Homo sapiens: one gene and its partners. The protein of the gene in region 1 purifies or fractionates together with the protein of each later gene. This does not show direct contact. Each region holds a gene or a part of one and is shown in the gene's direction. Other genes may lie near its edges.

Region 1 (3,447 bases):
CTGGGCCCTGGTCCTACTGTTGCCCGCCTCTCTGCTGAGCACATCACCTTCTGCAGGCTCTTTGCTTCATCTGAAGATACAAGGATAAACCGCACCCATCCTACTTCTTAAGGGTGTTTGGGAGGCTCTAATGAAACAGTAGATGTGAAACCACTTGGGAATGTAAAAGCTGTGGGCTGAGCTGTGGTCAGAGGCCGCCATGCCATCATGGGACAGGATGGGGTCCCTTAGGGGTAGGGAGAGGCCTACCTCATGAGAGAGTTAGAGGCTTGCTTGTATTTAACTCTTGCCTCTGTCCTCCTCGGTTTCTGCATAATCTCTTCAAAGCTGCTCTAGAGGCCATAAGCTGGGATGCTTGAGACACATTTTGGGGCTTTGAAGCCAGATAGACCTGGGTTCAAATCCTAGCTCTGTCATTCACTAGCTTGGTGACCGTGGACACGTCATTTCACGTTTCTGAACCTTGATTTCCTCATTTTATAAAAGGAGGATGGCAGTGGATTAGAATCCTTTTGGTCACAAGTGATAGAAACACTATTCAAACCAGTGTATCAGTTATCTTGCTGCATAACAATCTAACCCCCAGACTTACTGGCTTCAAATAATAAATATTTATTATTTCAGTTTCTGTGGGTCAAGAATTTGAGATCAGCTTAGCTGGCTGCTTCTGACTCAGGCTCTTTCATGAGGTTGCGGTCAAGATTTCTGCCAGGGCTGCAATCATCTGAAGGTTTGACTGGGTCTGGAAGATCCTCTTCACATCGCTGTTGACAGGAGGTCTCAATTCCTCATGCATGGGCCTCTCCAGAGGGCTGCTTATGCATCCTCAGGAGATGGCATCTGGCTTCCCCCAGAGTAAGTCATCCAGAGGAGAGCAAGGAGGAAGCCACAGGGTCTCTATGAACTTGTGTCCAAAGTCACACACCATCACTTCTGCTTTCTTCTATTCATTAGAAAGGAATCACTCGGTGGGGTGGGGGGAGGCGGTGGGGATTAGGCTCTAATTCTTAAAGGAGTATCAAAGAATTTATAGATACATTTTAATCAAAAAAAGCAACCAGTTTAATCCAAAAAAGAACTTTATTCTCGAATCTGCCAGGCACGGTGGCTCACGCCTGTAATCCCAGCACTTTGGGAGGCTGAGGCAGGCAGATCACCTGAGGTCAGGAGTTCGACACCTGAGGTCAGGAGTTCAAGAACAGCCTTACCAACATGGTGAAACCCCATCTCTACTAAAAACAGAAAGTTAGCTGGACGTGGTGGTGCACGCCTGTAATCCCAGCTCCTCGGGAGGCTGAGGCAGGAGAATCACTTGAACCTGGGATGTAGAAGTTGCAGTGAGCCGAGATCGTGCCACTGCACTCCAGCGTGGGCGTCCGAATGAGACTCTGTCACAAAAAAAAGAACTTTATTCTCGGATCCAAACACTGGAAACCTAGGATTCCGTGTCATCATGGCTCTGTCCTTCTGTCTCTCGGATCTATCTTCATTTCACTTGTAAAATAGACTTGGAACTGGTGAGCTGAGATTGATAGATACCCTTCCCTGTTTAGGAATCCCAGTGGGGTTGGAGCACCTTGTCTCTGCCTGTCATGGAAAATATGTCCTGTGCATAGATCAATTCCAGAGAAGCATTTTGGTTAGCTGCTTGAGTTGAAGAATGAGGAAGGAGATGTGATTGATGGTCCTGTCAAGCCACATGTAGGGGAGGGTGTGGCATGGTTCCCTTTTGAGGGGGGCTGGGCAGCCAAAACAACACATTAACTGAGGCTGGGTGTGAGGATAGAAAGAGTTAACATGAGTACCACACATGGCAGAAACCCTAACAGAACACTTCTGCCTCTATTGGCAGCCAGACGCGTGTAGGGGTCCCAGAAAATGGCACTGATTCCCGGTCTTCCTTTGTTTCTCCCCAGCTGGATGAGGCAGTGGCTGAAGCCCACCTGGGCAAGCTGAATGTGAAGTTGACCAAGCTAACTGAGAAGCAAGCCCAGTACCTGGGCATGTCCTGTGATGGCCCCTTCAAGCCGGATCACTACCGCTACTGAGAGCCAGGTCTGCGTTTCACCCTCCAGCTGCTGTCCTTGCCCAGGCCCCACCTCTCCTCCCTAAGAGCTAATGGCACCAACTTTGTGATTGGTTTGTCAGTGTCCCCCATCGACTCTCTGGGGCTGATCACTTAGTTTTTGGCCTCTGCTGCAGCCGTCATACTGTTCCAAATGTGGCAGCGGGAACAGAGTACCCTCTTCAAGCCCCGGTCATGATGGAGGTCCCAGCCACAGGGAACCATGAGCTCAGTGGTCTTGGAACAGCTCACTAAGTCAGTCCTTCCTTAGCCTGGAAGTCAGTAGTGGAGTCACAAAGCCCATGTGTTTTGCCATCTAGGCCTTCACCTGGTCTGTGGACTTATACCTGTGTGCTTGGTTTACAGGTCCAGTGGTTCTTCAGCCCATGACAGATGAGAAGGGGCTATATTGAAGGGCAAAGAGGAACTGTTGTTTGAATTTTCCTGAGAGCCTGGCTTAGTGCTGGGCCTTCTCTTAAACCTCATTACAATGAGGTTAGTACTTTTAGTCCCTGTTTTACAGGGGTTAGAATAGACTGTTAAGGGGCAACTGAGAAAGAACAGAGAAGTGACAGCTAGGGGTTGAGAGGGGCCAGAAAAACATGAATGCAGGCAGATTTCGTGAAATCTGCCACCACTTTATAACCAGATGGTTCCTTTCACAACCCTGGGTCAAAAAGAGAATAATTTGGCCTATAATGTTAAAAGAAAGCAGGAAGGTGGGTAAATAAAAATCTTGGTGCCTGGAAGAATTTTGAGCCTTTATTTTATAGATAATCCTCTGCCAACAATGTATGCCATGAATAGGGGGTTATAGTCGTGCTGATGAAGCATTCACGGGGTACTCTGCAGTGGAACGGCTGTCTGTGGTCCTTAGGCTTGAAAGAATGGGTAAAGTGAAGAGGGAACTCTTTCGTTTTTTTTTGAGACAGAGTCTCGCTCCGTCACCCAGGCTGGAGTGCAGTGATGCAATCTCAGCTCAATGCAACCTTCGCCTCCTGGGTTCAAGCGATCCTCCTGCCTCAGCCTCCTGAGTAGTTGAGATCACACCCAGCTAATTTTTTTTTGGTATTTTTAGTAGAGACGGGGTTTTACCATGTTAGCCAGGCTGATCTTGAACTCCTGACCTCAAGTGATCTGCCTGGGATTATAGGCGTGAGCCACTGTGCCCGGCTGTTTGCAGTATTTTTAAAAGTGCACTAAGTGGGGACTCACATTAAGTTCTAAAGATACAATGTCAAGTAAAACCCTTAAGTCACACTCAATGGCCCATGATCAGTGAGGCATGAGGGGCTGAAAACTGCTCACTCTGGCTTAGATGCTCATCAGTGTGTCCTGCCTGACAATTAATTCTTACCTTTTCTTTTTCCCTGAGTGCACAT
Region 2 (3,653 bases), on another chromosome or scaffold:
AGTCATTTCCAGTCAACAGTGACGTAGGGGTGCTAAAGTGGAGACTACAAACCACAGAGGAATCTTTTATTCCACTGACAAGTAAGTGCCTCTGGCCAGTCCCACTAAGCTAGTTTGCATTGAGAACTAGAAATAGCCCTTGCTGGTACACTTTTATTTTTATTACCATAGCAAAGTTCTTTCTGACAAAATGACTTTCTTTTGAAATGGACCTGGTGCTGCATTTTGTATATTTTTATCATTAGTTTTCATTTTTAATAGCTTTCATTTTGAAACCATTGTAGTTTTGTTGTTGTTATTGTTTTAGAGACAAGGTCTTCTTCTGTTGCCCAGGCTGGAGTGCAGTGGGGCAATCATAGCTCACTGCAGCATCAAACTCCTGGACTCAAGCCATCCTCCTGCCTCAGCCTCTTTAGTAGCTGGGACTAGGACTATAGGCACATGCCACCACATCCAGCTAACTTTTTTTAAAAGACACAAACTCCCTCTGTCACCCAGGCTGGAGTGCAGTGGTGTGATCATGGCTCATTACAACCTTGAACTCCTGGGTTCAGCTGATCTCCCACCTCAGCCTCCTGAGTAGCTAGGAGAACAGGGAAGTGCCACCACGCCTGGCTTTTTTTTTTTTTTTTTTTGGTATAGGTGGAGTCTCACTTTGTTGCCTAGGCTGGTCTTGAACTCATGGCCTCAACCAATCCTCCCACCTCGATCCTACCACCTTGGTCCTCTAAAGCGCTGGGGTTACAGGCATGAGCCACTGCACCCAGCCATCTTTTTCTAATATTCTAGTATGACTGCTTTGCTTTCTCCTCAGTTAATTGCTGGCCCTCGGAGAGTGGAAATGGCTGTGATGTCAACATAGAATATGAGCTACAAGAAGATAATTTAGAACTGAATGATGTGGTTATCACCATCCCACTCCCGTAAGTGCTGTCCCTGTGTCCTCTACGGTGGACTTAGAGAACTGGTCTTTTGGAACTCATTTTGGAGTCAGCACCTACCTGACCTGACTGTCCATTCAAAGATACTTCTTTAAAAAGCTAGTTGTGAAAGAAGCCAGATACAAAAGGCTGCATGTTATGTGATTCCACTTCTTTGTCTTTCTGGAAAAGGTAATACTATTGAATAAAAATGAGGAGGTAGAGAAGAAGGTACTTCACTTCAGAGGGGCACAAGGGAACTTTTGGGAATGATAGGAATGTTCTAGGACTTGTGTTTGCTTTGGCAGCACAGGTACTAAAATTGGAACCATACAGAGAAGATTAGCATGGGCCCTGTGCAAGGCTGACATGTAAGTTATGAAACATTTCATATTTATAAATAAGTAAAGCAAGGAAATTGTTTTTTTGAGACAGAGTCTCACTCTGTCACTGGAGGTCACTGGCACGATCTCAGCTCACTGCACCCTCCACCTCCCAGGCCCAGGCTATCCTCCTGCCTCACCCTCCCGAGTAGCTGGGACTACAGGCGCACACCACCACGCTTGGCTAATTTTTGTATTATTTGTAGGGACGGAGTTTTGCTGTGTTGTGCAGGCTGATCTCAAACTCCTGAGCTCAAGTGATCTGCCCGCCTCGGCCTCCCAAAGTGCTGGGATTATAAGCGTGAGCCACCACACCCAGCCAAGAATTGCTCTGTGACTTGATTGTGGTGGTGCTTACTGCATACACTTGTTGAAATACATTGAGCACTTGGAAGGGATGGATTTTACTGACTTTAAAACCAAATTGAACAAGCCAGTTGTAGATCTGGAGCTGTTTTTATTTATTTATTTATTTTTTATTTTTATTGGAGACTGAGTTTCACTCTTGTTGCCCAGGCTGGAGTGCAATGATGTGATCTCGGCTCACTGCAACCTCCACCACCTAGGTTCAAGTGATTCTCCTGCCTCAGCCTCCCGAGTAACTGGGGTTACAGGCATGTGCCATCATGCCCAGATAATTTTTGTATTATTAGTAGAGACGGGGTTTCACCATGTTGGCCAGGCTGGTCTCAAACTCCTGACCTTAGATGATCTGCCCGCCTTGGCCTCCCAAAGTGCTGGGATTATGGGCGTGAGCCACCGCACCTGGCTATTTTTATTTTTATTTTTTTGAGACAGTCTCACTCTGTCAGCCAGGCTGCAGTGCAGTGGTGCAACCTTGGCTTACTGCAACCTCCACCTCCCAGGTTCAAGCGATTCTCGTGCCTCAGTCTCCCAAGTAGCTGGGATTACAGGCGTGTGCCACCACGCCCAGTTAATTTTTGTATTTTTAATAGAGATGGGGTTTCACTATGTTGGCCAGGCTGGTCTCAAACTCCTGTCCTCAAAATGATCCACCTGCCTTGGCTTCCCAAAGTGCTGGGATTACAGGCGTGAGCCACTGCACCTGGCCTGGAGCTGTTTTTAGATGTTGGTCCTCAGCTTGTTTGTGTAGTAATGAAGATTTCCAGAAGGAGGAGCCATTTGTCAGTCAAACTTTCTGTTTTGCAGGTTTCAAAGAAATTGAGTCTATCGGGCTGAATGTTTCATTTTCACGTGCTAGTCTCTAAACTTTCACTAAAGATGAGAGTGTGTTCAAGGGAACTGTTGATTCTTGTTGAACAAGATGTCTACATTAGTTACAGTAAATTTCCTAACAGCCCTTTTGGAGCATAATTTATATACAATAAACTACACATATTTTAATTGTATAATCTTGACATGTTTACACTTGTGAAACCACCACCATAATCAAGATAACAAAAATGTCATGTCAACCCCAGAAGTTGAGTTCCAATAAGCTTTTGTTGTACACTTAAATGGCCCACTATCTAGGATCAACTGGAAATGGTCTCTACCTTATCTTTTTAGTAACATTTACAGTGAGCATGCAGTTATTACTTCACAGTAAATCCTAGCTCCTTTCACCTACCCATCAGCCCTCATGATTAAGCACAATGTTTAATTATGAGCACCAGTAAGTGTATTCTTAGTGTATCTTTACTGTTATGTCGCTCAGTTATTGCTGCAGAGAAAATGGTACTAATTTGCCAGGCGCAGTGGCTCACGCCTGTAATCCCAGCACTTTGGGAGGCCGAGGCGGGCGGATCACGAGGTCAGGAGATCGAGACCATCTTGGCTAACACAGTGAAACCCCGTCTCTACTAAAAATACAAAAAATTAGCTGGGCCTGGTGGCGGGCGCCTGTAGTTCCAGCTACTCCGGAGGCTGAGGCAGGAGAATGGTGTGAAGCCGGGAGGCGGAGCTTGCAGTGAGCTGAGATCGCGCCACTGCACTCCAGCCTGGGTGACAGAGCGAGATTCCGTCTCAAAAAAAAAAAAAAGTACTAATTTAATTCATAGTTTTCTTCCCTTTTTGATAATTCAAGCCTTTACATTATCAGGTCTGGTTTTAGTCATTCTTGTTTCCAATTTTAAAAATATACTTTATTACCAGTATCCCCTTTAATGGGTAACCATCTTATCCTCTACAGTATGGTTATTGCTTCAGAACAATAGATGGCTGCCTTGAACTGTTGTAGGACTTGGGTGTTGGTGACAGGTAGAGTTTTGTTTGTCAAGATTTAGTTTACTAGACTATTTATAGAATGCTACAATTTTGAGGCCTGTCTACCCTATAATTGTGGTTGTGGTGGTTTCCTGTATTCTAGTTCAGTTTTGCAATGGTCTCC
Region 3 (3,653 bases), on another chromosome or scaffold:
CCTGTGCACTTCTATGGAAAAGTAGAACACACCAACACCGGGACCAAGTGGATTGACACTCAAGTATTCAGAGTGCTCGTATAGCCAGCGTTTTGTATAGTATTTAGTACAGTAGATAATACATTGACTATGTAGCATATAGTGGTGATATTGAGTATAGGGCATGTCGTGTTTTGAATAATAGAATATATTTTTGTAAATAAATCTGTTACTTCTCTTAGCGCAGCCCAGTCATTTTGGAGACAAAGGAGCTGAGGCCAAGAGAGGAGTGACTTTTATAAGGGTCATTTTGCAACCAGCTTTGTCAGAAAATTGTCAGTTCTTTTTTTTTTTTTTTTTTTTTTGCCAGAAAATTGTCAGTTCTATAGTAACCAGCATGCTTACCTCTTTGGTTTTATATTAAGGTGTTGATAGCAAAATTGAATAATTTGAAATGTCATTCCTGGCTGGGTGCAGTGGCTCACAACTGTAATCCCAGCACTTTGGGAAGCCGAAGCGGGCAGATCACCTGAGGTCAGGAGTTCAAGACCAGCCTGGCCAACATGGTGAATCCCTATCTGTACTAAAAATACGAAAATTAGCCAGGAGTGGTGGCCCATGCCTATAGTCCCAGCTACATGGGAGGCTGAGGCAGGAGAATCGCTTGAACCTAGGAGGTGGAGGTTGCAGTGAGCTGAGATCATGTCGCTGCACTCCAGCCTGGGTAACAGAGTGAGACTCTGTCTCAAAAAAAATAAAATAAAATAAAATAAAAATAAAAGTTTGCAGTTTACACAATCAATCCTGGAAGCATTTTATTTACACTGTGGGTCCCACTGCTGAGCTAACTTGCATTTACAAAACACCTCTAGATACTGTCATAATGTATCCAGAAATTCAATTAGAGAGAGTGTGTGTTTCTGGGCCAACAGAGGCAAGGTTAGGGGGCAGAGGTAATATAAGTGAGCTGGCCCAAGCCATGCAACTTAGCCTCATAGATTGAAGTCATCACATGAATTAACCCCAAACTGGTACCCAGTGATGTCAGAGCATGAGTCCAGATGTGCTCTGTGCGTGCATGGGATGGCTTCCAATAAAGTCAAATGACACAGTCACGTGTCAGTTTAGGTCCTCTAGGAAACAGACACCAGAGAGAATGAGAAGTGCAAGTGACATATTGGGGGATGCCTATGAAAGACAAAGGGGAGAGGGAGCAGGATGAGGTGGGAAGGCTTCAGACTGTGACACAGGTGTGCCACCTGTGAAAAGTGAAGGGGAAAGAAGCAGCATTCTCAGGGAGAGCCTCAGACCACAGTGCCACTCTGAGCAAGTGGCCAGGCTGATGGAGCCTGACACTAAAGATTGCCCATTAGAGAAGTCTCGGCCCTAGTGTCCCAGCCACATGGAGTGTCCCAGAGAGCGCAGCTTTGGTGTGAGCTCTGAGGGAGCAAGTCCTCTTTGAGGTTCTCTGAAAGAAGATCTAAGCTGTGCACTTCTTGGGCTGCCTTAATTATGCTTCAAGGGTCAGAAGGGTCCAACTCTTGTTTGAACCGAGACTCAATCCCAGCCTGCAAATGACTTTCCCTGATTGATTACAACTTGCTTTAAAAGTCCAGAGACTTTTATCTCTTAATGAAAGATATTTAAATGAGGGTGATTTATTACTTTGAGGTCGCGGTGATCACGAAAGTATGACTGAGTATATGTGATTGATATGGGCCATAATGCTTCATTCATTCACAATTCAGCAGACCAAATTAAAGAGATGCGTGTTTAAGTTTCAATCCTGCCATGACTGTGATCTTGGGCAAGTCACTTCTCTCTCAGCTTCAGCTCCCTCATGTCCAAAATAAGTGGGTTGCACTAAATGAGATCCAGCATCCTCCAGTTCAATTATTCTGTCATTCTCCTTCCTTCGAGCTTGACTCTGATGAGGCCGGGAATAAAAATGAATGATTTCTCACTTGAATTTTCGATGCACTGTGAAACATAGTTAATCTTCCTCTTCTCTATTTCAGTGACTGTCACAAAGATCAAGCTAGATTTTCCAAAGCTTACCTCTTAGACTCAACTCAGCTAATTATCAGCTGATTTGGCAGATCACTGTAGGAATCACTAAAATAACTCCTTATGCAACTTTAAAAATCTAGCATAGCATTTTAAATATTATATGAGATGTTATAGCTTCATAAATTTCCTATTCCATTTACTTTCATCATACTTGAAATCAGATCACTGAAAAACCTATGCAAAACATATTCTAAGTGCTATTTTTTGGTGGGTACAGATTCACAATGTCACTTTGTTTGCATATCATATTTTATTATTATTAGAGCAATGGCTTTATCTGAAACATGAAAGATAAACTTTTTTGGCTGGGTGCAGTGGCTCACGCCTGTAATCCCAGCACTTTGGGAGGCCGAGGTGGATGGATCACGAGGTCAGGAGATCGAAACCATCCTGGCTAACACGGTGAAACCTCGTCTCTACTAAAAATACAAAAAAATTAGCCGGGCATGGTGGCGGGCACCTGTAGTCCCAGCTACTCGGGAGGCTGAGGCAGGAGAATGGTGTGAACTTGCAGTGAGCCGAGATTGCACCACTGCACTCCAGCCTGGGCAACAGAGTGAGACTCCGTCTCAAAAAAAAAAAAAGATAAACTTTTTTGAATACAAATACCATATCATTCCATTCCACTGCATTTATATCAGGGCAAGGGCACATGGAGAGTCAACATAGAAATACTGTAAAGGACCATCAGTGTGGATGGTTTCAGTCACTAGATTGTACCAGGTCGGGGAGGAACCACATGTTCCTCTAATACCCTCTGCAGCCCTGAGACCCTCTTCTCCATTTAGGCCTCACACAATTTAAGTTGGTAATGGAGCCAGGAATAGAATTCCATTGCAGTCTCCCAGCCCCTTGTTCAACCTATGTCATCACACTTGGGAAACAATGAGCAGCTGCTTCTGTTTAATCCCACAGGTGGTCCTGGCTCTGCCATATGACACCCCCGTGCCCGGCTACATGAATAACACTGTCAACACCATGCGCCTCTGGTCTGCTCGGGCACCAAATGACTTTAACCTCAGAGACTGTGAGTACAGCACAGGCCTTGGTTTCTTTATGCGTGTGCTTAATCTTTTTGATTGGTAGTTAGAACCAAATTGAGCTTGAAACAAACAAAAAAGCCTTGAGTTTCTGATCTGAACTTCACTGACTAAGCAGGCATTGTATGGAGGAAGTAGGGAGGGCATTTTTAAAGCAATTCTCATGTGAAGTCCAGCATGACGGTGTGTTGAAATCCTTTGGGATTTTTAGGAATTTTAGGAATCCCACATGACACACAGCACAGAGCCAGTGAGATCAAGAGGTTTCCAACAACAATGGCTGGTTTCTCTATTTATTGTTTCTCTAACTTTCCCCTAGTTAATGTTGGAGACTACATTCAGGCTGTGCTGGACCGAAACCTGGCCGAGAACATCTCCCGGGTCCTCTATCCCAATGACAATGTGAGTGATCAAGGTTGCTTTCTTAGTGGCAACAGAGGCAGCTTATTTCACAAGAGCCTGTTCAGTAACCTATAAAACACATTTAATATTGATGTTTTTCCATGTGCAGAACAAGCTCCGTATTTCTTCCTGAATTGTGTAGATTTCTCCTCCCAACCAAGT

Evidence for each region.
Region 2: the proteins of AHCY (region 1) and ARCN1 fractionate together in Homo sapiens (co-fractionation; one large-scale study listed by BioGRID). This does not show direct contact.
Region 3: the proteins of AHCY (region 1) and PYGL fractionate together in Homo sapiens (co-fractionation; one large-scale study listed by BioGRID). This does not show direct contact.

What each region holds. Positions count from the first base shown.
Region 1 is NC_000020.11:34,279,635-34,283,081, reverse strand, and holds the end of AHCY (adenosylhomocysteinase), read left to right. Parts: intron 1-1,916; coding exon 1,917-2,048; 3' UTR 2,049-2,814; downstream 2,815-3,447. UniProt on the Homo sapiens protein: Catalyzes the hydrolysis of S-adenosyl-L-homocysteine to form adenosine and homocysteine. Binds copper ions.
Region 2 is NC_000011.10:118,592,776-118,596,428, forward strand, and holds part of ARCN1 (coatomer subunit delta), read left to right. Parts: coding exon 1-81; intron 82-814; coding exon 815-923; intron 924-1,228; coding exon of another isoform or gene 1,229-1,291; intron 1,292-3,653. UniProt on the Homo sapiens protein: Component of the coatomer, a cytosolic protein complex that binds to dilysine motifs and reversibly associates with Golgi non-clathrin-coated vesicles, which further mediate biosynthetic protein transport from the ER, via the Golgi up to the trans Golgi network.
Region 3 is NC_000014.9:50,920,379-50,924,031, reverse strand, and holds part of PYGL (glycogen phosphorylase, liver form), read left to right. Parts: coding exon 1-63; intron 64-2,964; coding exon 2,965-3,076; intron 3,077-3,408; coding exon 3,409-3,491; intron 3,492-3,653. UniProt on the Homo sapiens protein: Allosteric enzyme that catalyzes the rate-limiting step in glycogen catabolism, the phosphorolytic cleavage of glycogen to produce glucose-1-phosphate, and plays a central role in maintaining cellular and organismal glucose homeostasis.